Regions from separate parts of the Homo sapiens genome. Here region 1 is linked to region 2. The links come from fine-mapping of genetic effects on gene expression. A gene starts in region 2. The other region holds a variant in brackets. All regions are shown on one strand. Distances are between the middles of the regions. Region 1 holds the start of CMPK1 (cytidine/uridine monophosphate kinase 1). Region 2 holds the start of CYP4Z1 (cytochrome P450 family 4 subfamily Z member 1).

The links. PIP is the estimated chance that this variant, and not a neighbour inherited with it, causes the effect. A credible set is the group of variants that fine-mapping cannot tell apart.
Region 1: its variant is the best candidate, but not a certain one, in a credible set for the expression of CYP4Z1 in skeletal muscle (FUSION, PIP 0.87).

The regions. Positions count from the first base shown.
Region 1 is chr1:47,317,614-47,333,868 of GRCh38, reverse strand. CMPK1 (cytidine/uridine monophosphate kinase 1) reads right to left here and starts at 79. Exons shown (of 6, transcript NM_016308.3): 1 at 1-79. RefSeq lists an enhancer at 1-140 and a silencer at 1-166. The variant G/TG (reference allele first, on the strand shown) is at 8,361.
Region 2 is chr1:47,060,068-47,076,322 of GRCh38, reverse strand. It overlaps CYP4Z1 (cytochrome P450 family 4 subfamily Z member 1), which reads right to left and starts at 9,092. Exons shown (of 12, transcript NM_178134.3): 1 at 8,656-9,092; 2 at 7,560-7,701. The coding sequence starts at 8,832. It also overlaps the pseudogene TUBAP9.

The DNA.
Region 1 (16,255 bases), 260 kb before region 2:
GAAAGGGGCGGGCTGAGCCGGCGCCCGCCGCGGCCCCGCCGCCGTGGCTGCCCGGGCGTCCGCGGCCCTGTCGGAAGGGGAGGAGCTTCGCACGGCGGCGGCGTCTCGGCGACACTCGTGCGGTCCGCGCCAGCTTTCCTCCAACCCTTGGGTGGTTATTAGTGCTTTCTGACTGCAGATATTTTATCCTGCGCCCTCAAGTGTCTGGTGCTGAGCTGGAGGCTGGGACGTGATCCGCGGGAGAGCAAAACCTATTGTCTCTGCTCGCAATGAGTTTCCATTCCAGCCAGTGAGGTATGGGGAGGTAGCCAGTGTGAATGAGTAAACACCAGTACATACAAAAGGCAGTACGATTTTGAAGAAATAACAAGTAGGACATAAGATGGCCAGGGTCGCCAGAGAAGGCTTCAGAAGAGGTGACATTCAAGCCAAGACAAAAGGATAGAAAAGAGCGAAACCAGGCAAACACCAGGATAGAGTGTCCCACAGAGAAAAGCATGTGCAAAAAATCTAAGTTGGTTTGGCATGTTAAAGCAATTGAAGGAAGGCCTGGCTGGGCGCGGTGGCTCACGCCTGTAATCCCAGCATTTTGGGAGGCTGAGGCAGGAGGATGGCTTGAGCCCAGGAGTTCGAGACCAGCCTGGACAACATGACGAGACCCCGTCTCGACCAAAAATTTAAAAGCCGGGCACCGTGACCCGTGCCTGTGATCCCAGCTACTGGGATGTTCACTTGAGCCTAGGAGCCGTAATAGCACCACTGCACTCCTGCCTAGGTGACAATGAGACTGCTTCAAAAAAAAAAAAGGAAAAAAGGCCAGTGACAGTGAGACCAGGGCTGAGTCAAATGAGGGGAGAATGGAAGGTGAAAAGTTGAGAAAGTGAGGTCGGTGGCAGATCAGGACTTTTGATTATGGAAAGGAATTTGGGCTGTATTCTAACAGCAATGGAAGCCCTTTAACTCCGTTCGCCTGCCCCCTTCATTAGGGAAGAATCTTAAGGGAGAAGAAAAGGAGACGTTCAAGAACTGAGCCTTGGTGCATACAGGCCTTTAAAAGGCCTTCTGGCCAACGTTAAGAGCTCATTTGATATTTGAGGTAACGGATTCAAAATAATTGAAGATGTTTGGCCATTCAGGCACAGGCAGAGAAGGCAGCTTGTTGCATTTACTGAGGGTTGGGATTTTGCCTGGCAAGTACAACAGAGAGAGGGGGCCAAGTGATGAGAGTGTTTGGAAGAGAATGTTCATGATGCTGTGTGTAGAATCAAAACCATACAGGAAAGCAAATAATGGCACATGAAGCCTGGTAGTGGAGGGGTTGGAGGGTGGTGGGGAAAGGGACCAATGTCTTAGAGCATTGGCCCAAGAAAGATTGCAGTGGGGTATATGAGCAAGTGCTCTGGCAGTATGGATGCTGCTGGTCTGAGTGGGATATTTGGAATTGAAATGTCCCAGCTTCTGAGTTTCTGATGATGCCAAGGTCCAGGGTGAGACCATGGGAATGGAAGACTGAGGCAGAATGCATGTCCTGTTTTTAGAACTAAGAGTCCAGGGTGTTAGATTTGTCGTACAGGTACAAGTTCAAGTCAGATAGTGCTGGAGTGAACAAAGACTATGGGAAAGGAACTAAGCTGTTTAGGGCAGAGTGACCAGGACGTTAGTAAACGAAAGCAAACAGGAGAGGAAGATAGTGGTATAGCCCTCTGTCTGACCACCCCCATTCTCCTTTTTCTTTTGGTGGTCCTTTCTTAGCTCACTCAGCATTTTCTGGCTCTTCCCCATCTCTACTCTCTCTCCTTGCTTTCTTTTTGTTGTTGTTGTTTTTACTTATTCCCATCCTTCCTACCCTTCTTTTCCCATTTATAAGTCCCTCCCTTCTCCCTGTCTCTTTTCCTGTCCTTCTCCTCACCTACTTGCCTTTGTTTGCCCTTCTTTTCCATTCTCCCTTTAATTTCTACCTCTTTCCTCTCCACAACTTCTACCTTTTCCTTCCCACCATAGAAAGGAGAATGGGATATTTTTTATTATCACAGCTGGAAAAAAATTTTTTTGGGGGGGATAGAGTCTCACTCTGTCACCCACGCTGGAATGCAGTGGTGCCATCTTGGCTCACTGCAACCTCCACCTCCCAGGTTCAAGCGATTCTTCTGCCTCAGCCTCCCAAGTAGCTGGGATTACAGGCACCTGCCACCACCCCTGGTTAATTTTTGTATTTTTAGTAGAGAGGGGGTTTCACCATGTTGTCCAGGCTGGTCTTGAACTCCTGGGCTCAAGTGATCCTCCTGCCTTGGCCTCCCAAAGTGCTGGGATTGCAGGCATGAGCCACCGCGCCCAGCCAGGCCTACACTACACTACAGGTGGTGGTGTGCACCTGTAGTCCCAGATGCTCGGAAGGCTGAGATGGGAGGCTGAGGTGGGAGGATCCCTTGAGCCCAGGAGGTGGAGGCTGAGGTGGGAGCAGCCCTTGAGCCTAGGAGGTGCAAACTCCAGTGAGCCAAGATCGTGCTACTACATTCTAACCTGGGCAACAGAGCCAGACCCTGTCTCAAAACAAAAACAAAACATTTTTCTATGGATACTGAAATTTGAATTTATATAATTTGCATGTGTCCCAAAATATTATTTATTTTTATTTTTAAAATCCATTTTAAAATGTGAACATTATTTTGAGCTTGAAGGCTATACAAAAACAGGGACCCACGTTTAGATATGTGAATTTTCACATAAAAAAACACGGCCGGGCGCAGCGGCTCATGCATGTAATCCCAGCACTTTGCGAGGCCAAGGTGGGCAGATCACCTGAGGTTGGAAACCAGCTTGGCTAACACGGTGAAACCCCAGTTCTACTAAAAATACAAAATTAGCTGGATGTGGTGGTGCATGCCTGTAATCCCAGCTACTTGGGAGGCTGAGGCAGGAGAATTGCTTGAACCCAGGAGGTGGAGGTTGCAGTGAGCTGAGATCGCACCACTGCACTCCAGCCTGGCGACAGAGCAAGACTCTGTCTCAAAAAAAAGAAGGCTCCAAACCCTTCAGCTTCTGGGGAGGAGGAGCTAGGACATGGGCAGCCAAGAACAAGGACAATTGGTCATATTGGGAATGGGTAGCAGGAGTATGAAAAAGGCCATATCAAAACAAATGTGTCTTCTTTTCCTTTGTTCACACAATTAGAGTTAAAAGATCTTAAGGATATGGTGTCTGTGAGAAAAAGGGCTAGGAAGCTATTGGCATACTTTTAGTGAAGGCCTTGGGCTAGAGACAAAAAGACAGTCTTTGTTGTTTCCATGATAGAACACCAGAACTAAGGATTCCACACAGGGGTTTGGGTCTGAAACTTCCTAGTAAACCTACTTAAAGCAATATGTGGTGATTTTTTTTTCACAGAGAAAAAAACTTTCTGGATAATTATGACCACAGTTGGTTGAGTACTTAATGTCCTGTTCCTTGCCTGTCTCCTTCTGCCAGTTATGTTAGGCAACTAAGGAAAATATTAATGTGGAAAGATTTCTAAAAACTGAAACCCAGACACCCATCTCTGCGAAGGGTTTTCCAGGGAGTCATTTCCAGGAATGACAAGGTGAGGCAAAAAAACACTTTATGACTAGTTGGCCCTTTGAGTCTGTTCCAGTTATCTATTGCTACAAAACAGCCATTCCCAAATCAATGACTTAAAACAAGAAACATTCTTTTTTTTTGAGACAGAGTTTCACTCTTGTTGCCCAGGCTGGAGTGCAATGGCACAATCTCAGCTCACCACAACCTCTGCCTCCCGGGTTCAAGCGATTCTCCTGCCTCGGCCTCCCAAGTAGCTGGGATTACAGGCATGCACCACCACGCCTGGCTAATTTTTTTGTATTTTTAGTAGTGACGGGGTTTCTCCATGTTGGTCAGGCTGGTCTCGAACTCCCGACCTCAGGTCATCCGCCCGCCTCGGCCTCACAAAGTGCTGAGATCACAGGCATAAGCCACCAAGCCCTGCCTTTTGTTGTTGTTGTTGTTGAGATGGAGTCTTGCTCTGTCGCCTGGGCTGGAGTGCAGTGGCACCATCTCAGCTCACTGCAACCTCTGCCTCCCAGGTTCAAGCGATTCTCCTGCCTCAGCCTCCTGGGTAGCTGGGATTACAGGCACCCGCCACCATGCCCGGCTAATTTTTGTATTTTTAGTAGAGATGGGGTTTCACCATGTTGGCCAGGCTGGTCTCAAACTCCTGACCTCAAGTGATCCGCCCGCCTCAGCCTCCCAAAGTGCTGGGATTACAGGCGTGAGCCACGGCGTCCAGCCAAAACAAGAAACATTTATTTTGCCTATTACCTGAAAATTGGGCTGGGCTCAGTGGGGACAGCTAATCTTCATCCCACATGGCATCAGCTGGGGCAGCTCAGCTGAGGGCTGGAGGATCCATATCCAAGAAGGCTCATTCACATGGCTGACAGAGGATAACTTTTTTCCTCTTGTGAGTGTCAATACTTAATTTTGGTGTAGAGACGGGAAGCTGGAAAATACACTATTTAAATTTTTCTTGGCTCTCCCTAACATTGTGGAAACGCTCTTTCCCTAAAGACCATGGAGTTTACCATGAGTTGCTTAGGTTTCTTTTTACAGCATGATGGCTAAATGTTACTCTTCAAGAGTAAACATTCCAGGAGATGGGGAGTAGAAACTGCCAGTTTTTAAAACCTCGGTTTAGAAACTGCCACAGCAACTCTTCTTTCACCATATTCTTTCAGTCAACCACACACAGAGCCCAGATTCAAGGAGAGGGTACATAGGCCCTACTTCTCAAGAGGAGTGTCAGGAATTTTGGTGCCATGTTTTAAAGTTTCTACAGGGTCCAAAAGCCCTCTGTGGAACCTTAGATTTAGTAAGCTGAGATGGATCTTATAGAGCTTAGAGAAAACTCTCTTGTATAATCAAGGGAGGCCTAGATGACCTTCCCTCTCTTAGACTCCTCCCTGGCAAGCTAGACCAGATCAACAGGAACACTCAAAAAGAGAAATAAGCCAAGGAAGTTAGGATCTCCAAGTAGCTTTGGGCCTATTTGATCACACTGGCAGTCACATGGGGCCAAGCCGAGTACATGGAATTAATAAAAGACACAATACTACACTGATGCTTGAAAATTCAATCCTATTGCTTGTCCACAGTGAAAGGTCTACCACTTAGCATCTTGATCCTAATTTGTCTCCAAGGAATCCATTTTGTCTTAGCCATATATTAGTGCTCCTTGGAGGTGGCAGAGAAGCATTGAATTACACCTAGGGGTAAGCCACCAGATATGCAATAATAGTATGTCCCAATAAATATATATAGAATAAGTGGATGTCACCCAGTAAAGGGGCATTTCCTAACTATATCCATAGATTGAATCTATAGGCTAAATAAATTTGATTAATATCTATTAAATGTATACTATGGTGGCTCACGCCTGTAATCCCAACACTTTGGGAGGCCAAGATGGGTGGATCACCTGAGCTCAGGAGTTCGAGACCAGCCTGGCCAACATGATGAAACCCCATCTCTACTAAAATACAAATTAGCTGGGCATTGTGGCAGGTGCCTATAATCCCAGCTGCTCAGGAGGCTGAGGCAGGAGAATCACTTGAACCTGGGAGGCGGAGTTGCAGTGAGCCGAGATCACACCATTGCACTCCAGCCTGGGTGACAGAGCGAGACTCCGTCTCAAAAAAAAAAAAAAAAATGTCTACTATGTGCCAGGCATTTTTTGGATAATATTCCAACTTTTAAAATAAATCTATCAGAATACCTGTAAAGATTTCTGTGCTGTCTTTTTGTTTGTTTGTTTGTTTGAGACATACTTTCACTCTTGTTGCCCAGGCTAGAGTATAATGTGCAATCTCGGCTCACTGCAACCTCCACCTCCTGGGTTCAAGCAATTCTCCTGCCTCAGCCTCCTGAGTAGCTGGGATTACAGGCATGCGCCACCACGCCCGGCTGACTTTGCATTTTTAGTAGAGACAGGGTTTTGCCATGTTGGTCAGGCTGGTCTTGAACTCCTGACCTCAGGTGATCTGCCCTCCTCGGCCTCACAAAGTGCTGGGATTACAGGTGTGAGCCATCGCACCTGGCCTCAGATATCTTCTAATTGCTAGATTGTGGGGAGGTCCAGTGTGTCCCAGGGGAGAGTTGGAGGACACTGGAAGTGCTTAGGGAAGTAGCCATATGCCAACTCATATGTAAATGTTTCAATATTTTTGTTGTTTCTTTATTTTTGAAACGAGGTCTAACTCTGCTGCCCAGGCTAGAGTGTAGTGGCGCATCACAGCTCACTTTAGCCTCGACCTCCTGAGTAGCTGGGACTACAGGTATGCACCACCATGCCTCGCTTATTTTTCTATTCTTTGTAGAGACAGGATTTTGCCATGTTACCCAGGCTGGTCTCAAACTCCTGGGCTCAAGTGATCCACCCAGCTCAGCCTCCTAAAGTGCTAGGATTTCAGACGTGAGCCGCCGCGCCCCGCGTGTTTCAATATTTTAATCACCAATACAGCCTTTCCAGTTGGGTATTAGTTAAATATCAGCCTTGCCTTGCCTATGAAATTCTCATAATGCTGTGAAGTTAGTACTATCGTTTTACATAGAGCCAGGACCACAAGGCAATGCCAGGCGCGGTGGCTCACCACACGCCTGTAATCCCAGCACTTTGGGAGGCTGAGGCAGGTGGATCACCTGAGGTCGGGAGTTTGAGACCAGCCTGACCAACTTGGAGAAACCCTGTCTCTACTAAAAATACAAAATTAGCCGGGTGTGGTGGCGGGCGCCTGTAATCCCAGCGACTCGGGAGGCTAAGGCAGGAGAATCGCCTGAACCTGGGAGATGGAGGTTGCGGTGAGCCAAGATCGCGCCATGACACTTCAGCGTGGGCAACAAGAGTGGAACTCCGTCTCAAAAAAAAAAAATCAACAACAAAAAAACCCCACAAGGCAATAGATGACAAAGTCAAATTCAAATTCAGCATGTATGACTTTAAAATGTGCATTTCTATACAACACTGACTCCATGAAAAGTTCCATACTCACAAAAATCCCGTCAAAATATGTTATGTTACAGACCAGAAGACTGATCTCAGAAAGATGTATAGCAAGAGCTATCCTTAAAACCCACCCTTACCCATAGATGTTTATCATTGAGTACATTAGGTCTTTTCACATACATTCAGTACCTGCATACTATTCCCAGGGTATATCTATGTTCCTAGCACCCTTTGTAGGGGATTAGGAAATAAGCTTTGTCACCATTCATCAATCCTATTTATCATAATTGCCTCTTAGAGATAGATATCTGTTCCCATACTTTCATTTTCCCAGACTTGACTACTCCCCTTTGCTGCCTATGTTATATTCATGTTTCAGAATTCAGCTTGAGCCTGGGCAATCTAGTGAGACCCTGTCTTTAGAAAAAATTAGAAAAATTAGACAGATGTGATCCCAGCTACTCAGGAAGCTGAGGCAGGAGGATTGCTTGAGCCCGGGAGGTTGAGGCTGCAGTGAGCAGTGATCATGCCACTCCAGCGTGGATGACAGAGTGAGACCTTGTCTCAAAAAAAAAAAGAAAAGAAAAAAAGTTGGGCATGGTGGCTCATGTCTGTAATCCCAGTACTTTAGGAGGCCAAGGCAGGAGGATCACTTGAGCTCAGGTGTTCAAGACAAGCCTGGGCAAGATGGTGAGACCCCATCTCTTTTGAAAAATTGATTGATTGAGACAGAATCTGGCTCTGTCGCCCAGACTGGAGTATAGTGGCACGATCTCGGCTCACTGCAACCTCCGCCCCCTGGGTTCAAGCAATTCTCCTGCCTCAGCTTCCTAAGTAGCTGAGATTACAGGCACACGCCGTTGCACTCCAGCCTGGGCAACAAGAGCGAAACTCCGTCTCAAAAAAAAAAAAAAAAAAAACAACCTCCCAAGACTGGGTTAGGTGTACCTCTTTTGTGCTTCTACCCTCCCCCATCACGTCCCTTGTTATTTCTGTTGTAGGCCTATGTTGTTATGGGTATCTCCACACTAGATTTAGAGCTCTATGAAGGAAGGGACTCTGTCTGATTACTCTTTGTACAGCATTGAACTAAGAGCATGACCGTGTGTTATTGTTACATGATTCACTCTCTTAAGCAAGCAGGTGCATGCTTTGTCTTCAGGCCTTCATAGCTGTCTATTATATTGTAATCTATTTCCTGGAGTGATGCTTAGTACATTGCATAACCTGATACTTAATAGAGTTTCTAAAATGAAGGTCCCTGCTACTCAGATTTGCTTGGTTATTGTTGTGAGGCTTTATCAAAGGACCTGTTCTCAAAGATTCTGAACATTAGTTCAGGGAAACATAGTATTTTTTTTTTTTTTTT[G/TG]GAGACACAGTCTCGCTCTGTCACCTAGGCTGGAATACAATGGCACAATCTCGGCTCACTGTAACCTCCGTCTCCCGGGTTCAAACAATTCTCCTGCCTCAGCCTCCCCAGTAGCTGGGGCTACAGGTCACACCACCACACCCAGCTAATTTTTTGTGTTTTAGTAGAGATGGGGTTTTACCATGTTGGCCAGGCTGGTCCCAAACTCCTGACTTCAGGTGATCCGCCCACCTCGGCCTCCCAGTGCTGGGATTACAGGTGTGAGCCACCACGTCTGGCCCACATCACATCACTTTGGGAGGCCGAGGTGGGTGGATCACCTGAGGTCAGGAGTTCGAGACCAGCCTGGCCAACATGGTGAAACCCCATCTCTACTAAAAATACAAACATTAACTGGCAGTGGTGGTACACACCTGTAATCTCAGCCACTTGGGAGGCTGAGGCAGGAGAATCGCTTGAACCCGGGAGGTGGAGGTTGCAGTGAGATGAGATCATGCCACTGCACTCTAGCCTGGGTGACAAAGTGAGACTCCATCTCTGAGCCACCACGCCCAGCCCATCTCAAAAAAAAAAAAATGTGATGTGACAAATCTGGCAGCAGACAATATGACTGCTCTCCTGGGAGTGACTTTGTCAGCTGAGCTTAGCTTCATACTGCAGAACTGCAGGCAGACCAGTGAAGGGAGACTGACTGTCTTTAGCTGAATTTACAGCATCTTTGCTAACTTTACAAGCTTAGGTAGGTTGGTTATACCTGCAATTTCTTTGTCTGCAAAATCAGGATGATGGTACATTAGCTCAGTTTAGCAAATACTTTTAGAGAATTTACCAGTATGTGATATTTGATCATTGTATTCATTCCAAATAATCCAAACTTTAAAAAATAAGTAAAATAAGTCAACATGACTTGAGACATAAATTGTAATTGTTGCCTCTTCTAAGATTTTTAAGTGTCTAAAAGGAATTTGGCATAAATTGACAGATTAGCAATCTTCTTTAAAAATATGTTTCTTAAGGCCGGGTGCAGTGGCTCACGCCTGTAATCCCAGCACTCCTTGGGAGGCCAAGGCAGGTAGATCTCCTGAGCTCAGGAGTTTGAGACCACCTTGGGCAACATGGTGAAACCCCATCTCTACAAAAAAATACAAAAATTAGCCTGGTGTGGTGGTGCACGCCTGTAGTCCCAGCTACTTGGGACGGAGAGGGGGCTGAAGTGGGAGGATCACTTGAGCCCAGGAAGTTGAAGCTGCAGTGAGCTGAGATCGTGCCACTGCACTCCCACCTGGGTGACAGAGAGAGACCCCATCTTTTTTTTTAAAAAAAAAGACATAAATAAAATAAAAATATGTGTCTTAAAAGCAAAGCTGTAGTTGTTTTTAAAAATCAGTAGTACAATTTAGCTTAGAAGTGTAAATTGAGAAAGGGAAAGTTGGGTGTTTGGAGAAACTTAGTACAGTAATAAGTAACAGAACCAGGAAGAGGAGAAATAACAGATTCCAACTTCCCTGTTCCTGGTGATAACAATAGCTCTTTAATCCCCATAGCCAGTCTGTTAGCAGGCACCATCAGGGTTTATAGCACTGAACATTTACTTAGTCTAATCATAAAGACCATGTCATGTGGACAGGGACTGAAAAGGAATAAGGAAAAACAATTGATGTCTTTGGGTTGCTATAACAGAATACCATAAACAGGTAGCTTATAAACAGCAGAAATTTATTTTTCACAGCTCTCAAAGATAGGAAGTTAGAGATCAAGGAGCTGGCAGATTTGGTATCTAGTGAGGGCCTGCTATCTTGGTTCATAAACAGCCATTTTCTCCGTGTGACTTCACAGGGCAGAAAGGAGCAAGGGAGCTCTCTGGAGGTTTCTTTTATAAGGTACTAATCCCATTCATGAAGGCTCTGCCATCATGACCTAATCACCTCCCAAAGGCTCCAGCTACTTACTATCATATTAGAGGTTAGGACTTCAACATATGAATTTTGTGGGGAACACAAATATTCAGTCTACAGCAGTTAGAATATAGAATTCTGGATGAATTTTTCCTTTTACAATTTTTTTCTTGTTATAACATTGTTTATGCAACAAATTCATACTTTTAAAAAAATGACAAACTGGAAATGGTTATCTGTGAAGCAAACTAAAGAACTTGGAAATTTAAAAAATAAAACCAGTAGCTTTTCTCTGTAAGGGCCAAAAGTAATAGCAATTCCACAGTGTCTTGAAATGACACATGAATGGCCAGGTGCGGTGTGGCTCACGCCTGTAATCCCAGCACTTCGGGAGGCCGAGGTGGGTGGGTCACCTGAGGTCAGGAGTTTGAGACCAGCCTGACCAACATGGTGAAACCCCGTCTCTACTGAAAATACAAAAATTAACTGGGCATGGTGGTGGGTGCCTGTAATTCCAGTTACTCAGGAGGCTGAGGCAGGAGAATTGCTTGAACCCGGGAGGCGAACGTTGCAGTGAGCCGAGGTGGCGCCATTGCATTCCAGCCTGGGTGACAGAGCAAGACTCCATCTCAAAAAAAAAAAAAAAAAAGAGAAAAAAAAAGAAATGACACATAAATATATATAAACAGAGATCAAAGACTAGCATGGTATCTCTTCAGTCTATTTAAACTGGCCTGTCATCTAACAATTATTCATATTTGCTTTGGGTAATTACCTCTTATTACACAGCCTATAAAATTGTGCCTTCCCTGTTCTATGCTTATCATGTCCTTTCAACTCCCCATACCAGCTAGCACTAAAGCTTAGTGTATAGTAGGTCCTTGGTATAGCATTTGTAGATTTTATTCCATTAAACTTAATTCTCTTTCTTTTTGTTTGAGATGGAGTCTCGCTCTGTCGCCAGGCTGGAGTGCAGTGGCGCAATCTCGGCTTACTGCAACCTTGGCCTCCCAGGTTCAAGCGATTCTTTTGCCTCAGCCTCCCGAGTAGCTGGGACTACAGGCGTGCGCCACCACGCCTGGCTAATTTTTTTTTTTTTTTTTTTTTGAGACGGAGTCTCGCTCTGTCACCCAGGCTGGACTGCAGTGGCGCGATCTCGGCTCACTGCAACCTCCCCTCCCGGGTTCAAGAGATTCTCCTGCCTCAGCCTCCCGAATAGCTGGGAGTACAGGCGTCTGCCACCATGCCTGGCTAATTTTTTTGTATATTTAGTGGAGACAGGGTTTCACCATGTTGGTCAGCCTGGTCTCAAACTCCTGACCTCAGGTGATATGTGCACCTTGGCCTCCCAAAGTGCTGGAATTACAGATGTGAGTCACTGCGCCCAGCCCTTATTCTCTTTCTAATTTAACAAATCAGTTCCCTTAATCTCTTTGAACACAGGGCAATGTGTTGCTCATTTATTAATAATGTCAACTGCCAGTACACCTAGACTAATAATAATATATGGGTGGCCCCTTTAACTTTCACACTCATTATGCATTAACTCTTTTTTATGATAATGTACAATATGCAAATGAGGAAAATCAATCTCAGAGAAATTAAATGGCAGAATTGGGGTCAGATCCCCAAAGCTATTGATTATTGCATTATAATTCAAAAAAAAAAAGAAAACATCTGGGGAAATAAGCTCTTTAGTCACTTCCAAGCTCTCCTAAATATAATGCTGAATCATTCCTATCCTAAAATGAAGTCAATAATTACTTTTCATTTCAGTCAAAAAGTATTTATGCATAGTGTTAAGTGTATATCCTGCTTAGAAGTCCAGTGGTAGGCCAGGCATGGTGGCTCACGCCTGTAATCCCAGCACTTTGGGAGGCCGAAGCAGGCGGATCACAAGGTCAGAAGTTCGAGACCAGCCTGGCCAAAATGGTGAAACCCTGTCTCTACTAAAAATTCAAAAATTAGCTGGGAGTGGTGTCGGTTGCCTATAATCCCAGCTACTTGGGAGGCTGAGGCAGGGAGAATTGCTTGAACCGAGATCATGCCACTGCATTCCAGCCTGGGAGACAGAGCGAGACTCCATAAAAAAAAAGTCCAGTGTTAATAAAATGTTTAATTGAACTCTCATTGGTATTTGAGTTATTACTAAGCAAAAAGGAAGACATGCTATTTTAGTTGTTCTAAAGATTAGCACATGCCTCAGCTCTCACCTTGTACTTTCCTTTTTTCTTTGTAATAGACTCTTTAATTTTTTTAATCCTAAGAATTTGCCTCAGTCAGGCACGGTGGCTCACACCTGTAATCCCAGCACTTTGGGAGGCCGAGGTGGGCGGATCACCTGAGGTCAGGAGTTCAAGACCAGCCTGGCCAACATCCTGAAACCCCGTCTCTACTGAAAATACAAAAATTAGCCAGGTGTGGTGGCAGGCACCTGTAATCCCAGCTACTTGGGAGGCTGAGGCAGGGAGAATTGCTTGAACCTAGGAAGTGGAGGTTGCAGTGAGCTGAGGTCCAGCCACTGCACTTCAGCCTGGGCAACAGAGCAAGATTCCGTTTCAAAAAAAAAATTTGCCTCTAAAACACTTTTTTTTTGGCTATTGTCTCTTACTGGAAGGATTTTTGTTTGTTTTTAAAAATTATATTTTATAATGAATAGAGATGGGGTCTCACTATGTTTCCCAGGCTGGCCTTGATCTTCTGGGCTCAGGCAATCCACCCACCTCAGCCTCCCAAAGTGTTGGGACTGCAGGCGCAAGCGAGTGTACCAGACAATACTTTATTTTTTTTAGAAGTTTTATATTTATAGAAAAATTGAGAACATGGTACAGAAGTTCCATACCCTACACCCAGTTTTTCATATTATTAACATCTTATATTAGTATGGTAGGTACATTTGTTACAGTTAATGAACAAATATTGGTACATTATAATTAACTAAAGTCTATATTTAGACTTTCTTAGTTTTTACCTAATGAGGTTTTTTTCGGTCCGTGATCCCATCCACGGTATCACATTACATTTAGTTATCATATCTCTTTAAGCTTCTCTTGACTCTGGCAGTTTCTCAGGATTTCCTTGTTTTTGATGAGTTTAACAGTTTTGAGGAGTACAGGTCAGGCATTTTACAGGATTCCTCACTATTGGAATTTGTCTGTCTTTCTCAGAATAATACAAGGTTATAGGTTAATGGGAGGAAGACCACAGAGATAAAGTGCCCCTTGCTTTTTTCTTGTGACGGAATCTCACTCTGTCGCCCAGGCTGGAGTGCAGTGGTATGATCTCACCTCACTGCAACATCTGCCTCCCGGGTTCAACCGATTCTTCCACCTCAGCCTCCTGAGTAGCTGGGACTACAGGCGCATGCCACCACACCCGGCTAATTTTTATATTTTTTGGTAGAGACAGGGTTTCCTCGTTAGCCAGGCTGGTCTCGAACTCCTGACCTCAAGTAATCCACCTACCTCAGCCTCCCCAGGTGCTGGGATTACAGGCGTGAGTCACCGCCTCTGGCCTAAAGTGCCTTTTTTTTTTTTTTTGAGACGGAGTTTCGCTCTTGTTGCCCAGGCTGGAGTGCAATGGCATGATCTCGACTCACCACAACCTCCGTCTCCCGGGTTCAAGCAATTCTCCTGCCTCAGCCTCCCGAGTAGCTGGAATTATAGGCATGTGCCACCACGCCTGGCTAATTTTTTGTATTTTTAGTAGAGACGGGGTTTCTCCATGTTGGTCCGGCTGATCTCAAACTCCCGACCTCAGGTGATCCGCCTGCCTCGGCCTCCCAAAGTGCTGGGATTACATGCATGAGCCACCGTGCCCAGCCTAAAGTGCCATTTTAATCACATCATATCAAGTGTGCATAGTAGTCTGGGTGCTGTGGCTCACGCCTGCAATCCCAGCACTTTGGGAATCCGAGCACTTTGGAGGCCCAGTACTTGAGGCTAGGAGTTCAATACCAGACTGGACAATATAGACAGAATACTTGCTACTGAAGGAAAAAAAGAAAGTTGGGCATGGTGGCACCCTCCTGTCGTCTCAGCTACTTGGAGGCTGAGGTAGGAGGATCATTTGAGACCAGGAGGTTGAGGTTGCAGTGAGCTATGATTGTGCCACTGCACTCCAGCCTGGGCAACAGCAAGGCACTGTCTCTAAAAAACAAAAAAAGGAAACAGAAGTGTACCTACTATCAGCATAACTATTGAGGTTGGCTTGATGACCCACCTGAAGTAGTGTTTGTCAGGTTTTCCCATTGTAAAGTCACTTTCCTCCCTCTGCCTTTCTCCCCCAACCCAATACTATACACTTAGAAGAAATGTCATTATGTGCAGCCCACACCTAAGGAGTGGGGGGTTATGTGTTAGGCTCACCCCTTCCTTTTTATCTAACTCATACTACATTTCTCTTTCTAATATCAAAGTAGTTTTAAAGAAAATCATAAATCATGAGAAGCTGACACAGCGTTCCTTTCTTTTACATGCTAAATTCAATCTGGAATCAAATAGTATTGATTATTCCTTCAAAATATATCCAGAATACAATAACCTCTCACCACCTCCATTGCTACCATTCTGGTCCAAGCTACCATCAATCTCTCTTCTAAGTTATTGCAGCAGTTTTTTAACTGGTCCCCTTGCATCTCTGCCCTTGCCCCAAACAGTCTATTCTCAATATAGCAATCAATGGTCCTTTTAAAACCTAAAATCATAGCCTCACCCAGGCGCAGTGGCTCACGCCTGTAATCCTAGCACTTTGGGAGGCCGAGGAGGGAGGGTTGCCTGAGATCAGGAGTTTGAGACCAGCAGGGCCTATATGGTGAAAATCCGTCCCTACCAAAAATACAAAAATTAGCTGGGCGTGATGGCAGGGGCCTGTATTCCCAGCTGCTCGGGAGCCTGAGGCACAAGAAATGCTTGAATCTGGGAGGCGGAGGTTGCAGTGAGCCTAGATGGCGCCACTGCACTCCAGCCTGGGCAACAGAGCGAGACTCCATCTCAAAAAACAAAACAAAACAAAACAAACAAAAACCTAAAATCAGATTATGTCAGTCCTGTATATAAAATCTTCCAGGCTGGGGGTGGTGGCTCACGCCTGTAATCCCAACACTTTGGGAGACTGAGGCAGATGAATCACGAGGTCAGAAGTTCGAAACCAGCCTGGCCAACATGGTGAAACCCTGTCTCTACTAAAAATACAAAAAATGAGCTGGACGTAATGGCGGGTGCCTGTAATCCCAGCTACTCGGAGGCTGAGGCAGGGTTCATCACTTGAACCCAGGAGTCGTAGGTTGCAGTGAGCTGAGATCACACCACTGTACTTCAGGCCCGGCACCAGAGTGAGACTCTGTTTCAAAAAAAAAAAAATTTTCCAAAGGCTTCCCATGTAACTCAGGGCCTTTGCACTTCATGTAACCAATGGCCGTCATTGAGATGTGTCAGTGATCTCAATGACTTAGATCTCTTTCCAGAAAGAACTTTCCAGTCAGCTGCAAAGACTGCAGTTGCCTGACAGCCTCCTTTGGAATCTGCCTTAGCTTTGGTGCTTGTTCTTTCTTGGAAGCCTCAGGCAATGACTAGGCACAGCAAGAATTCTAGGGCCTAGCCATTTCTGCCTAATGTGGGACTCCTGTAATGGGCAATCTTTGCTCTGGAGCTCCTTATTGGGCTGGCCAACAGTTTGTCAGACATGCATGGCTGTCTGAGGCCCTTCCTGTTCTCACACTAGAGCTCAGGAACTGACCATCATTCCCCTTAAAATTTGTACCCTAGATGCCAAGAATTTTTTCAGGAAAGCAGAGAATGATGCTCTACAGAGCACATCTTTCTTTCTTTTTTGTTTTTTCTGGAGATGTAGTCTCACTCTGTTGCCCAGGCTGGAGTGCAGTGTTGTGATTTCAGCTCACTGCAACCTCTGCCTCCCAAATTCAAGTGATTCTCCTGCCTCAGCCTCCCTAGTAGTCGGGATTACAGGCGTCCACCACTACGCCCAGCTAATTTTTGTATT
Region 2 (16,255 bases):
CTGAAGGAAGGAAATGATAAAGATTAGAGCTGAGGTAAATAAAATAAAAGCAGGAAAAACAATAGAAAAAAATTAACAAACAAAAAGTTATTTCTTTGAGAAGATTAACAAAATTGACAAAACTTTAATTAGATGAACTATGAAGAAAAGTGAGAAGAATCAAGTTACTACAATCAGAAGTGAAAGTGGGAACGTTACTATCAACTTATTATTACAGATAATAAAAGGATTATAAGAGGACACTATGGACTACTCCCTTGGACTCCATGGTGGTCTGTTAGTGGGAGATCCTTGTTGCTGTCCCTTCACCTCCTTCAGCCTTGCAGAACCTTACAGGTCCCTGTCATAGGTGAGTGCATCTCCATGTTGGCTAGGCTGATGTCCAGATTGGCAGTTCCTGCTAGGATCTCTACTGCCTGGAACATGGCCTCTAGCCTGATGGCAAGGCCAAGAGACAAGACTAGTGTGGGAGGAAATAACTCCTTCAATACCTTCTTCAGTGAGACAGGTGCTGCCAACCATGTGACTAGGTCAGTGTTTGTAGATGTTGAACCCAGGGTCATTGACAAAGTTCACACTGGCACCTACTTCCAGCTCTTCCACCCTGGGCAGCTCATCACAAGCAAGGAAGATGCTGCCTATAACTATACTTGAGGGCACTTTTGCATAGGAAAGGGGATTATATTGACCTCATCTTGGACTGAATTTGCAAGCTGGTTGACTAGTGCACAGGTCTTCAGAACTTCTTGGTTTTTTACTGCTTTGGTGAGGGGACTTGTTCTGGGTTCACTTCTCTGCTGGTGGAATGTTCTTTCTGTTGATTATGGCAAGAAGTCCAAGTTGGAGTTCTCCGCATACCCAACCCCCCATATTTCCACAGCTATAGTTGTATAGCTCTATCTTCATCTCCCATACCACCCTGTAGCACTCTGATTGTGCCTTCATGGTAGACAATGAGGCCATCTATGACATCTGTGGAGAAACCTCAATATTGAATGCCCAACCTATACTAGCCTTAACTGCCTTATTAGCCAGATTGTGTCCTCCATCATTGCTTCCCTCAGATTTGATGGAGCCCTGAAAGTTAATCTGACAGAAGTCTAGACCAAAATGGTGCCCTGTCTCTGCATCCACTTCCCTCTGGCCACATATTCCCCCACCATCTCTGCTGAGAAAGCCTATCACGAACAGCTTGTTGTAGCAGAGATCACCAGTGCTTGCTTTTAGCCAGCCAACCAGATAGTGAAATGTGACTCTTGCCATGGTAAATACATGGCTTGCTGCCTGTTGTACCATGGGGACATGGTCCCCAAAGATGTCAATGCTGCCATCACCACCATCAAGATCAAGCCTACCATCCAGTTTGTGGATTGGCATCCCATTGGCTTTAAGGTTGGTATTAATTACCAGCCCCCCAGTGAGGTACCTGGTGGAGACCTGGTCAAGGTATAGAGACCTGTGTGCATGCTGAGCAACACCACAGCAGTTGCTGAGGCCTGGGCTTGCCTGGACCACAAGTTTGACCTGATGTATGATAAGCCTGCCAAAGCTGGAGAACTCATACACCTTGATTTCAAACTTACTGCAAAGCTATAGTCACCAAAACAATGTGGTACTGCCATTAAGTGTAGATATCAGAGTCCAAAAATAAACCCATACATCTGTTGTCAATTCATTTTCAACAAGGATGCAAATACCATTCAATGGGGAGAATGGTCTCTTCAAGAAATGGTGCTGGGAAAACTAAATACCTGTGGGCACAATAATTAAGTGTACCTTTATCTCACTCTATATACAAAAATTAACTAAAAATGTACCAAAGGGGGAAAAAAACAATGAAATCACATCATTGCAGCAACATGGATGCAGGTGCAGGACATTATCCTAAGTGAATTAATGTAGGAACAGAAAACCAGATACTTCATGATCTCACTTTTAAGTAGGAGTTAAACATTCAGTACTCATGGACATAAAGATGGCAACAATAGACACTCTGGACTACTGGGGTGGGGGAGGAAGGAAAGGGGGCAAGGATTGAAAAACTAATTGTTGGGTACTGTGCTCAGCACCTGGGTGATGGCATCATTTATACCCCAAACTTCACAGTATCATGCAGTATACCCAGGTAAGAAGCCTGCACATGTACCTCTTAATCTAAAATAAAAGATAAATAAATAAATAAACAAATGCCCCTACTTTAGGCTTCTTTCACCCAAAAAAAGGACTAAAGACCTATGTATAAGAGTCAAAACTATAAAACTCTTAGAAGAAAAAATAGGGGAGGGTCTTCATGAATTTGGACTGGGCAATGGTTTCTTAAAAATGATAGTAAAAGCACAGGCCACAAAAGGAAAAATAAATAAGTTAGATTTCATAAAAATGAAAAGCTTTTGTGTATCAAGGGCCACTAAAAGGGTTAAAAGACAAACCACAAAATAATAGAAAATGTTTGCAAATCATATATCTGATAAAAAAACTTGTGTACTATATATATTTAAAAACTATTACAACTGAACAATAAAAAGACAGCCCAATTAATCACGGGCAAAGGACTTGAATAGACATCTCCAAAGATAAACAATGGGCCAGCAAACAAATAAGATGATATTCAGCATCAATGGGCAAACAATAAGATGATATTCAGTCATTAGGGAAATGCAAATTAAAATAAAATTGGTCTTGGCCTGGTGCGTTGGCTCATGCCTGTAATCTCAGCACTTTGGGAGGCTGAGGCGGGTGGATTACTTGTCAGTAGTTTGAGACCAGCCTGGCCAACATGGTGAAACCCCATCTCTACTAAAAATACAAAATTAGTCAGGTTTGGTAGTGCACGCCTGTAGTCCCAGCTACCTGGGAGACTGAGGCAGGAGAATCACTTGAACCCAGGAGGCACAGGTTGCTTTTAGTGGCCCTTGACACACAAAAGCTTTTCATTTTTATGAAATCAGCATTATGCATAATGGCCAAAAGTTGAAACAATTCAAAGGTCTATTAACAGATGAATGCATAAACAAAATGTGGTATATTCATACAGTAGAATATAATTCATGAAAAGAAACAATGCTACAAAATGTATGAATCTTGAAAACATTATGCTAAGTGAAAAAAGCAAAATGCAAAGGGTCACATATTGTGTGATTCCATTTATATGAAAAATCCAGAATAAGTAAATTCATAGAGACAAAAATGCAGATTAGTAGTTGCCAGTGACTGGGGCAAGGGAGGAATGGGGAATAACTGCTTAAAATTGGTATGAGGTTTCTGTCTGGACTGATGAAAAATTCTGGAACTAGACAGAGATGATAGGTGGATAGCACTGTGAATATACTTAGTGTCCCTGAATTGGATCTTTAAAACGGTTAAATGGCAAACCTTATGTGTATTTTGCCACACACACATAAAAGACAATGCCTATTTCTAGGGGTGAGGAAGAGCATTTTTGGCAATAGCCCCTATATATGGTCAGGATCTTGTAGTGTCTGAATTCCTCAAATGTAACACAGACCCTGGTGTGCACAGTACTAACCTGAGTTCCTCTCCATTGCCCCTATAGGACTTAGGGAGATAGTGGGGCCGATGTTAATGTGAAGCTCATGATACCTATTATGCCATGAGTAATAAACAGTCTAAATCCATTCAGGCCCACTGGCTTTTTGCTGACTGAATTTATGAATGTGCAGTGAACCAGCTAAGTAGCTTAGGGACTGCTTGACAGCTTGATACCCCCATGTCAAAAATATTGGTACATTCATTAGTATCTCTTGAATTCATACAATTATTTCCACCTCCACCCCTCTACCTTTGTCCAGGCCTCCATCATCTGTCCTTTGGACAGTGCAGCAGGATAAGGTGGATTCCTGGTCTCCAGCCTTGATTCCCTCCAGCCATTCATCATACAGCTGTCTGAGTGATGTTTCAAAACACACAGATATTCACAGTACTTCTCTCCTTTGATGCTCACCATTACTCAGCCTACAAAGTTCTGAATGACTGGGCCCATGTCTACCAGCCTCTTCTCTTGCTTTGTCTCCTTCTCCATATCTGGGACAATTTGGCCATCAAAAAAGATGATGATAATGAAATTCAATACACTGATTTCTTAACAATCCATGAATCCTTACTGGTATGCAGAAAGAGAAACAGAGGGACAGAAAGTGAGACAGTGAGAGAAAGGCAGATGGGGGTGGGGAGAGGAGGAAAGTTCCTCATTATAGATAGGGAAAGCTGAAAAATGGAGAAGAAATAGAAAATCCCTATTTTTTTAACCTCTATTAACTCAGATAAAACTTATGCATAAAAAGTTGTTTGGCTCTGGCTATCTATCTATCTATCTATCTATCATCCATCCATCTATGAGCAAATGCAGACTTTATACCATATAAAAAATTAACACTAAATGAATCAAAGAACTGAATGTGAGAGCTACAACTTAAAACTCTTAGAAGAAAACATAAGGAAAACTTCATGACATAGGAGTTGGCAATAATTTTTTGGATATGATGCCAAAAGCACAGGCAGTGAAAGAAAAAATAGATAAACTGGACTTGATAAAATAAAAAACTTTTGCTCACCAAAGAACACTATCAACAGAGTAAAAAAGACACCAACAGAATGGGAGAAGATATTTACAAATCATATATCTGATAAGGATTAATATCCAGAAGATATAAAGAACTACTGCAACTCAACAACAAAAGAAACCAAAGAACCAATTGAAAAAGGTGCAGCAAACTTGAATAGACATTTCCCCGAAGTTGATATATAAGTGGCCAGTAAGCATATGAAAAGATGTTCAACATAATTAATCATTAGAGAAATGCAAATAAAAACCACCATAAGATACCATTTCACATCCATTAGGATAGCTATTATTAGTATTAGTTTAAATAATACAACATATTTTTTATTATTTTTTTTTCTTGAGACGAAGTCTTGCTCTGTCACCCAGGCTGGAGTGCAGTGGTACTATCTCAGCTCATTGCAACCTCTGCCTCTCAGGTTCAAGCAATTCTCCTCCCTCAGCCTCCCAAGTAGTTGGGACTACAGGCATGTGTCACCACGCCTGGCTAATTTTTGTATTTTTTTTAGTAGAGACGGGGTTTCACCATGTTGGCCAGGCTGGTCTTGAATTCCTGACCTCAAGTAATCTGCCTGACTTGGCCTCCCAAAGTACTAGGATTATAGGCTTGAGCCACTGCATCTGGTCTATTTTTTTTTAAATAGAGATGGGATTTTTTCATGTTGCTCAGGTCTTAAACTCCAGGGCTCAAGTGATCTGCCTGCCTTGGCCTCCCAAAGTGCTGGGATTACAGGTGTGAGCCATTGTAGCTATTATTATTATTTTTTAAATCCCCAGAAAATAACAAATGTTGGTGAGAACGTGAAGAAATTGGAACCCTTGTGCATTGCTGGTGGGTATGTGAAATGGTGCAGCCACTGTGGAAAATGCTATCACAGTTCTTCAAAAAATTATATATAGAATTATCATGTGACTCAGTAATTCCACTTTTTGGTATCAACTTGAAATAATTGAAAGGACCCAAACAGATATTTGTACATGCATGTTCATGACAGCATTATTCACAAAAGCCAACTGATAGAAGTTATCCAAGTGTCCATTGTCAGAGGAATGGATAAACAAAATGTGGTACATACATACAATGGAAATTCAGCCTTAAAAAGAAAGGACGTTTTGATATATACTACAACATGGATGAACCTTGAGGACATTATGCTACATGAAATAAGCCAGTTACAAAAGGACAATATTGTATGGTTCTACTTATGGAGGTACCTAGAATAGGGAAATTTAAAAAGACAGAAAGTAGAATGGTTGTTGCCTGAGGCTGGGGGGAGGGGAAAATGGGGAGTTAGAGTTTAATGTGTACAGAGTTCCAGTTTGGGAAGATGAAAAAGTTCTGAAGATGGATGGCGGTGATAGTTGCACAACAATGTAAATGTATTTAATGCCATTAAATTGTATACTTAAAAGTGATTTAAAATGGTAAATTTTTAGTTTATGTATATTTTACCACAATAAAATGAATGTAATTAAAAGAAAAGCACATATGGGAATATGATATCAATTAATGACACTAGAGAAGGGTACAATGGGTGTTCAAAATTTCTCTTGTAGGGTTGAAAATTTTCAAAATAAAAAGCTGGGGATAAGATGATTTGGGTGGGTCTGGCCAGAAATAATAAGAGCAGGATTCTCAGCTCTCCTTTTTTGGCCACCGTGCTTCTGCAGTGGGACTCAAAAAGAAGTACTAATGTGTGGCAGATAAATAACTTAACATCCCATACTCTGTATATTATTCTGCTCTTTTCTCATGTAACTGTACAGTTATCACACTTCAAGGCATAAAATTATCCTTTTCTCTGAGGAGGAGACAATTTTAGGCACCAGCAGGGAATACAAACCAAAGGAAAAGAAAACAAAACAGTAAGAGAAAAAAAGCAAGAGAGGGAGAGAAATTCTTGGCTTCTCTGGGAAGGAGCTAAGGTTGTGAGTTGAAGACAATGGGGACTGAAGAAAATATGAACAGGAAGGATGGCTTTCCCTGTATGGCCTGCCCAGATGCCCTTACAACCAACCACAAAAAAAGAAAAACAGCCAGAAACTAAGCCTCCCTTCTCAAGGGAGTGAACACACTGAAGAGAGAATTTGTAGATAAAGAAGAGAAAATAACTCCAAAGGAGAAACAATCACTTTCCTCTTTCATCCCTTTTGGGCAAAGGTCCAAAGGTGAGAGCAGAGCATAAAGGGGAGCAGAGTAAAGTTTGAAACTGGATAGCCAGACATTTCTTGCACCATTACCAGGAAGAAAGCTGAGATGGTGATTCTGGCAGAGTGCCCTGTGAAATGAGAGAGCCACAGGCTGCTTGAAATTTTGCAGAAGCACCAAGAGTGGTATGGAGGCATTTTATAACTGAATGACTCATGTAGGTAGCTGGGAGAGTGAGGCGAAGGCCAGCCTTATATGCCAACAGGCAGTTGAGGAAAGCCCAGTGGGGGAATCCTACACACATCTTGCCACGGCCAAGAAGCAGCTCTGCAATTCCACGGAATTCCCACACTAGGGACCAGATGGAGAACTGGTGTCCACTTGCCAGAGCCTCCAACCTGGCACTGGCCATTCCCAGAGGACAGGCAACATTAGTGGGCAAAGCATCTATGGGGAACACTCATCTCTGTGCAGCACTGGCGTTAAGCCAATTGTAAGCAAACCACCACTGCATGCCCAACCCACTGTATGTTCACAGTGATGGTAAGTGGTAGTCCTGGGGGTCTGAGGTAAGTAAATGTGATGGAAGCATCAGAAAAAATTTGCCATGTAGGGAGAGAAGATTGCTTGAAAATGGATCAGAGAATCCTCTACAACAGCCCTCAATAGAGTCCTGACTATGATGTTGAGGAGGACATGGAATCTTCCCTTCAACATATCAAATGATGGATTTCCCTTAAAAATGCTTCAACCTGTCCTTCCCTAGTGCCACAGACACCCTGAGACCCTCTTTGTTGCTGCTCTGTACTGTGAGCCCCTCTTGGTTTTTACCTTGTCTTTTCAGGAGAATCTTGGCATAGTCTGGGTCATGGACACTGAAGAACATCGTAAAGGGTCCAACCCACAAGGGAACAGCACATGGGTATTTTTCCATCAGCTTATGATACACCTCAAACTCCTTTACTGGGTAAAACTGTCATAAGATAAGTCATGACTGGTTAGTAAAGGTTGTCACCCCAGGAGGACCCCTTTCCCTCGGATGGACCATGTGCTAAGTTGAGGATCTGTGGACACCACCCCATCAGACAGGTTCACATCTGTTGAAGGCAAGTTTTCTTCTCCATGTGTCTCCAGCACCTCCACAGAATCTTCGTGGCCCTGGGCAAGTGCTCAGGACCTGTTGCTGAGCGATTGGTCTTCTCACTCCAGCGTCAACTTTGGAGATTTAAGTTCAAATCCCAATCTGACACTTATTCATTATCTAGGTCATCAGGGCCATGATTTCCTCACGTGTATAATAGGAAGACCAAATATATTTTACAAAGCTGCCATGAAAATTAAGTGAAATTATAAACATAAAATTCCTGGCACAAGGTAAACCGTTAGTAACCACTGATGCCCTACCTCATCTTTGCTCTGGATATACCCACTCATGCTTTATCTGCCTCCAAAGCAGCGAAGTCTCACATGCCTTTTACTCCTTTTGGTTGCTGCTCATCTTTCAACTTTCCTTTCTAATTTGCTAAATGTTTTCCTATTTCCAGCTTCATTAGAAGCTGTAGCATCTTGGTATAGTTCCTGTTAACAATTGGCTTGGTCTATTTCTCTCTAGAACACCCAGAGTCCTGAGAATAGTAAAGACCTTGGCCTTGAATCAGAAGACCAGGGTTCAAGTTTCATTTCTGTCATTTATGAGGTGGGTAGCACAGGAAAGTTGCATTTCTATTTTAGGCTTCAGTTTTCTTATCTGTAAAACAGGAATAACAATATCTTTCCTCCCCATATCATAGAATTTTTGTAAAAATCACAATGAGATTGGTGTGAAAGCATTTTGCATATTACATAATGCCCCACCAGTCTGTGCTGTTTTTTTTTAATACCTCATCTTTCTGTCCCTTAACCTCCCCAACTAATTTTCTCCTCTTACCTCCTTGTGGCCATAGAACCAGTGGGCAGGGGGTGCAGGAAACAGGTGCAGGGCTCTGATCATCCATCTCCTCCTCTGGTACAACCTGATTACCTGAAACAGCAGCAGAGACATGCAGAGGAGGATCAGCAGCAAGAAGGGGTGAGCCATGAGTTCCTGAAGCCAGGAGGGCTCCATTCTTCTCAGAGGTCCTGAGCTCTGGAGAGCCTGAGAGAACTGAGCCAGGGAGAATGCAGGTCTCTCATAAACACAAAGGAGATGCCCCCTGGGCAACACTGGGCTTTCAAAATGCCATATTCAGGGAGGGGACATAAGGAAGAGGAAGCCTAATTAAGTCTGCAGGGTGAAAACTGCTGAGATGTTGGCCAGCAGACCTGGATTCTAGAAGAACAAGATTTTCAGATAGGAGCCATGTGCATGACAGCTCACACCCATATGAAAGCTTTGCTGCACTGCTGTCCCCTTCCAGAATCTAAAAGTTCCCATCTAGTCATCCTTTGTCACACCTCTATACATTCTTGTAAAAAATCTCCCCCACTCTCATTCTCTGTTCTTTTTTGTTTATGTTTCTGATAGAATTTATCTTTCTAGAGAAGTTTCAAGTTCACAGAAAAATTAAGCAGAAAGTTCAGGGAGTTCCCATATATCACCCCTCCCTTCCAGCTTCCCTGATTATCAAAATCCTCCACCAGAGTATAACACTTGTTACATTTAATGAACCTACAATGACACATTATCGTCACCCAAAATCTTAGGTATATACCTAAGTTTTTTTTTTTTCTATTTTGAAAGGGGTTGAGTTCTTGATTTGATTCTCAGCTTGGTTGCTGCTGGTGTACAGCAGAGCTACTTATTTGTGTATATTAATTTTGCATCCTGTAGGAGCTTTTTGGATGAGTCTTTAGGCTTTTCTAGGTATACGATCATATCATCAGCAAACAGTGACAGTTTGACCTCCTTTTTACCAATTTGAATGCCCTTTATTTCTTCCTTTTGTCTGATTGCTCTGGCTAGGACTTCCAGTACTATGTTGAATAGAAGTGGTGAAAGTGGGCATCCTTCTCTTGTTCCAGTTCTCAAGGAGAATGCTTTCTACTTTTCCCCTTTCAGTATAATGTTGGCTGTGGGTTTATTGTTATGTGGCTTTTATTACCTTAAGGTGTGCCAGTTTTGTTGATGAGAGTTTTAATCATAAAGGGATGCTGGATTTTGTTAAATGCTTTTTCTGCAGCTATTGAGATGATCATGTGGTTTTGTTTTTAATTCTGTTTATGTGGTGTATCACATTTATTGACTTGGGTATGTTAAATCATCCCTGCATCCCACTTGATTATGGTGGATTATCTTTTTGATATGCTGTTGGATTCAGTTCACTAGTATTTGATTGAGGATTTTTGCATCTATGTTCATCAAAGATGTTGGTCTGTAGTTTTCTTTTTTTGTTATGTCATTCCCTGGTTTCGGTATTAGGATGATACTGGCTTCACAGAGTGATTTAGGGAGGATGCTCTCTTTCTCTATCTTGTGGAATAGTGTCTATAGAATTGGTACCACTTCTTCTTTGAATGTGTGATAGAATTCAACTGTAAATCCATCTGGTCCTGGACTTTTTTTTTGTTGGTATTAAAAAAAATTACAATTTCAATCTCACTGCTTGTTATTGGTCTGTTCGGCGATTCTATATCTTCCTGGTTTAACCTAGGAGGGTGGTATATTTTCAGGAATTTATCCATCTCCTCTAGGTTTTCTAGTTTATGCATATAAAGGCATTCATGGAAGTCTTGAATAATCTTTTGTATTTCTCTGGTATCAGTTTGTAATAGCTCCTGTTTCATTTCTAATTGAGTTTATTTGGATCTTCTCTCTTGTTTACTTCGTTAATCTCACTAATGGTTCATCAATTTTATTTATCTCTTCAAAGAACCAGGTTTTTCATTTCATTTATTTTTTGTATTTTTTTTGTTTCAATTTCATTTAGTTCTGCCCTGATCTTTGTTATTTCTTTTCTTCTGCTGGGTTTGAGTTTTGATTGTTCTTTCTCCAGTTCTGTGAGGTGTGACCTTAGATTGTCTATTTTTGCTCTTTCAGACTTTTTGATATAGGCATTTGATGCTATAAACTTTCCTCCTAGCACTGCTTTTGCTGTATCTTAGGGTTTTTGATAGGTTGTGTCACTATTATTGTTCAGTTTAAAGAATTTTTAAATTTCCATCTTGATTTCATTGTTGACCCCAAAATTATTCAGGAGTAGGTTATTTATTTTCCATGTATTTTCATGATTTTGAGGGTTCCTTTTGGAGTTGACTTCCAATTTTTTTTCCATTGTGGTTTGAGAGAGTACTTGATATAATTTTGATTTTCTTAAATTTACTGAGACTTGTTTTGTGGCCTATCATATGGTTTATCTTGGAGAATGTTCTATGTACAGATGAATAGAATGTATATTCTGCAATTGTTGGGTAGAATGTTCGTTAATATCTGTTAAGTCCATTTGTTGTAGGGTATAGTTTAGGTCCATTGTTTCTGTGTTGATTTTCTGTCTTGATGACCGGTCTAGTGCTGTCCATGGAGTATTAAAGTCCCCCACTATTATTGTGTTGTTGTTTATCGCATAGTAATTGTTTTATAAATTTGGGCGTTTCAGTGTTAGGTGCATATATATTTAGAATTGCAGTATTTTTCTGTTGGACTAATCCTTTTATCATTATATAATGTCCCTTTTTGTCTTTTTAAACTGCTGTTGCTTTAAAGTTGTTATGTCTGGTATAAGAACAGCTACTCCTGCTCACTTTTGGTGTCCATTTGCATAGAATATCTTTTTCCACTTACCTTAAGTTCATGTCAGTCCTTATGTGTTAGGTGAGTCTCCTGAAGACAGCAGAAATTTGGTTGGTAATTTCTTATCCATTCTGCTGTTCTGTTTCTTTTAAGTAGAGCATTTGGGCCATTTACACTCAATATTAGTATTGATATGTGAGGTACTAGTCTACTCATCATGCTATTTGTTGCCTGAATAACCTTGTTTTTTTTTAATTGAGTTTTTGTTATGTAGATCCTGTGAGATTTATGCTTTAAGGAGGTTCTATTTTTGTGTATTTTGAGAATTTGTTTCAAGATTTAGAGCTTTGAGCAGTTCTTTTAGTGCTGGCTTGGTAGTAGTGAATTCTCTCAGCATTTGTTTGTCTGGAAAAGACTATCTTTCCTTCATTGATGAAGGTTAGTTTCACTGGATACAAAATTCTTGGCTGACCATTGTTTTGTTTAAGGAGGCTAAAAATAGGACCCTAGGCTGGGCACTGTGGCTCCGTCTGTAATCCCAGCACTTTGGGAAGCTGAGGTGGGTGGATCACGAGGTCAGGAGATCGAGACCATCCTGGCCAACATGGTGAAACCCCATCTCTACTAAAAATAGAAAAATTAGCCAGGCGTGTGGTGGTGTGCCCTGTAGTCCCAGCTACTCAGGAGGCTGAGGCAGGAGAATCACTTGAACCCAGGAGGCAGAGGTTGCAGTGAGCTGGGATCGCGCCACTGCACTCCAGTGTGGGCAACAGAGTGAGACTCTATCTCAAAAAAAAAAAAAAAAAAAAGGACCCAAATCCCTTCTAACTTGTAGGGTTTCTGCTGAGAAATCTGCTGTTAATCTGATAGGTTTTTCTTGACAGGTTACCTGACACTTTTGCCTCACAGTTCTTAAGATTCTTTCCTTCATCTTGACTTCAGATAACCTGATGGCTATGTGCCTAGGTGATGAACTTTTTGTGATGAATTTCCCAGGTGTTCTTTGAGCTTCTTTTATTGGGATGTCTAGATCTCCAGCAAGGCCAGGGAAGTTTTTCTTGATTATTCCCTCAAATATGTTTTCCAAATTTTAGATTTCTCTTTTTCCTTGGGAACACCAATTATTCTTAGTTTTGGACATATAACGTAGTCCCAAATTTTTGGAGGCTTTGTTTATTTTTAAAAATTATTTTGCTTTGTCTTTGATGGGTAGGGTTAATTTGAAAGACTTGTCTTTGAGCTGTTAAGGCCTTGCTTCTGCTTGTTTGATTTTATTGCTGAGACTTTCCAGTGTATTTTGCATTTCTGTAAGTGTGTGTTCAGTTTCCAGAAGTTGTGATTGTTTTTTATTTGTGCAATCTATTTCACTGAAGAATTTTCCTTTCATATCCTGTATCATGTTTTTGATTTCTTTAAGTTGGACTTCACCTTTCTCTGGTGCCTCCTTGATTAGCTTAATAATCAACCTTCTGAATACTTTTTCTGGCAATTCAGAGATTTTGTCTTAGTTTGGATCCATTGCTGGTAAGCTGATATGATCTCTTGGGGGTGTGAAAAAACCTTGTTTTGTCATATTACCAGAATTGTTTTTTTCTGGTTCCTTCTTATTTTGATAGACTATGTCAGAGGGAAGATCTGGGATTCAAGGGCTGCTGTTCAGATTATTTTGTCCCAAGGGGTGCTCCCTTGATGTGATGTTCTCCCCCTTCCCCTAGGAGTGGGGCTTCCTGAGAGCCAAACTGTAGTGATTATTTTTGCTCTTCTGGGTCTAGCCACCCAGCAGAGCTACGAGGCTCTAGGCTGCTACTGGGGAGTGTCTGTAAAGAGTCCTATGATGTGATCCATCTTCAGGTCTCTTAGCCATGGATACCAGTGCCTGCTCCAGTGGAGGTAGCAGAGGGGTGAGGTGGACTCTGTGAGGGTCCTTGGTTTTGTTTTTGTTAGTGCACTGGTTTTGTGTTGGTTGGCCTCCAGCCAGGAAATGGAACTTTCAAGAGTGCATCAGCTGTGGTCCTATAGGAAAGATGCAAACTTGCTGTAGAGACACCTGGTTATGTATTCAGGTTTCTCAGGTGGTGGGCAGGGCCATAGTGCTCCCAAGTGATTATGACCTTCGTCTTTGGCTACCAGGGTGGGTAGAGAAAGACCACAAGGTGGGGTCAGGGTAGGCATGTTTAAACTCAGCCTTTCCTTGGGCGGGGCTTGCTGCAGCTGTTGTGGGGGATGGGGGTGTAGTTCCCAGTCCAATGGAGCTATATTCCCAGGGGTATTATGGCTGTCTCTGATAAGTCATACAGGTCACCAGGGAAGTGGGGGAAAGCCGGTAGTCAGAGGGCTCACCCTGCTCCCACACAGCCTGGAGACCTAAAGGCCAGTCTCACTCCTACTGTGCCCTCCCCAGCTGCAATGAGTCTATTTCCAGGCAGCCAGTGACCAGGGCTGAGAACTTGCTCCAGACCACGAGCCTCCTCATTGAGAAAGGAAGCAGAATCACAGTTTTTGGCTTCTCAGGGAGCCTGCAGCAGTAATCCAGTTACTTCAAAGGTCTGTAGATTCTCTTAGCTTTCCCGGTATGTTCCTGCAGTGGTTCTTGGAGTAAAAGTTCATGATGTGAGTCTTCACACACTGTTCTGTCCAAGTGGGAGCTGCAAGCTAGTTCTGCCTGCTATCTGTCATCTTCAAACTATGTCTTCCTCTTGCCTGATTGCTTTGGCCAGGACTTCCAATACTATGTTGAATAGGAGTGGTGACAGAGGGCATCCTTGTCTTGTGCTGGTTTTCAAGGGGAATGCTTCCATCTTTTCCCCATTCATTATGATGCTAATATGGGTTTGTCATAGATGGCTCTTATTATTTTGAGGAATGTTCCTCAATACATAGTTTATTTAGAGTTTTTAACATGAAGTGATGTCCAATTTTATCAAAATCCTTTTCTGCATCTATTGAGATAATCAAGTGACTTTTATACTTAGTTCTCCTTATGTGATGATCCGCATTTATTGATTTGTGTATGTTGAACAAACCTTGCACCCTAGGGATGAAGCCTACTTGAGCATCATGGATTAGATTTTTGATGTGCTGCTGAAATTGGTTTGCAAGTATTTTGTTGAAGATTTTTGCATCAATGTTCATCAAGAATATTGGTCTGAAGTTTTCTTTTTTTGTTGTGTCTCTGCCAGGTTTTGGTACCAGGATGATGCTGGTCTTATAGAATGAGCTAGAGCAGAGTCCCTCCTTCTCAATTATTTGGAATAGTTTCAGTAGGAATGCTACCAGTTCTTCTTTGTACATCTGGTAGAATATGGCTATGAATTAATCTGGTTCTGGGCTTCTTTGGGATGGTAGACTATTTATTACTCATTCAATTTTGAAGCTCATTATCGGTCGGTTTAGGGATTTGATTTCTTCCTGGTTCAGTCTAGGGAAGGTGTATGTGTCCAGAAATTTATTCTGCTCTTCTAGATTTTCTAGTTTGTGTGCATAGAGGTGTTCATAGTAGTTTCTGATGGTTATTTTTATTTCTGTGGGGTCAGTGGTAGCATCCTCTTTGTTATTTCTAATTGTGTCTATTTGGATCTTCTCTCTTTTCTTCTTTATTAGTGTGGCTAATGCCCTATATATCTTATTATGTTTTTCAGAAAGCAAACATTGAATAGTTTTCTGTGTTTTGATTTCTTTCAGCTCAGCTCTGATTTTGGTTATTTCTTGTCTTCTGCTAGCTTTGGAGTTGATTTGCTCTTCCTTCCGTAATTCTTTCAGTTGTGGTATTAGATTGGTAATTTGAGATCTTTTTACCTTTTTGATGTGGGCATTTAATGCTATGAACTTCCCTCTTAACACTGTTAGTTCTGTCCCAGAGATTCTGGTATGTTCTACCTTTGTTCTTATTAGTTTCAAAGAACTTGATTTCTTCCTTAACTTCATTGTTTACTCAGAAGTCATTCAGGAGCCTGTTGTTTAATTTCTATGTAATTATATGGTTTTGAATGATTGCTTTAATCTTGACTTCTATTTTTATTGCACTGTGCTCTGACAGTGTGTTTGGTATGATTTTGGTTCTTTTGCATTTGCTGAGAATTGTTTTATGTTCTATTATGTGGCTGATTTAAAAGTATGTGTCATGTGGCAATGAGAAGAATATATATTCTGCTGTTTTGGGATAGAGAGTCCTGTAGAGGTCTATCAGATCTATTTAGTCCTGTTGAGTTCAGGTTCTGAATATTTTTGTGAATTTTCTGCCTTGATAATCTGTCTAATACTGACAGTGGAGGGTTGAAGTCTGCCACTATTATTGTGTGTGAGTCTAAGTCTCTTTGTAGTCTCTAAGAACTTGCTTTATGAATCCAGGTGCTCCTGTATTAGATGAATATATATTTAGGATAGCTAGGTCTTAAATAGAACCCTTTACCTTGATGTAATGCCCTTCTTTATCTTTTTTGATCTTTGTTAGTTTAAAGTCTGTTTTGTCTGAAATTAGGATTGCAGTCCCTGCTTTTATTTTAATGTCCATTTGCTCGGTAGATTTTCCTCCATCCCTTTATCTTGAACCTATGAGTCTCATTATGTTTGAGATGGGTGTTTTGAAGACAGCATACCATTGGGTCTTGCTCTTTTATCCAGCTTGCCACTCTGCCTTTTAAGTGGGACATTTAGCCCATTTACATTCAATAATCTATTAATTTTTTAAAAAGTATATGAAAAGTATTTTACAAGAAGTTTTGAGCAAACATTGGAAAGGGATCATAGAAATGAAGTGAATTTGTCTAACAAATATTTAAAAATGTAAATGAATTTCTGCTTATCAGATAAATAAATCTATTAA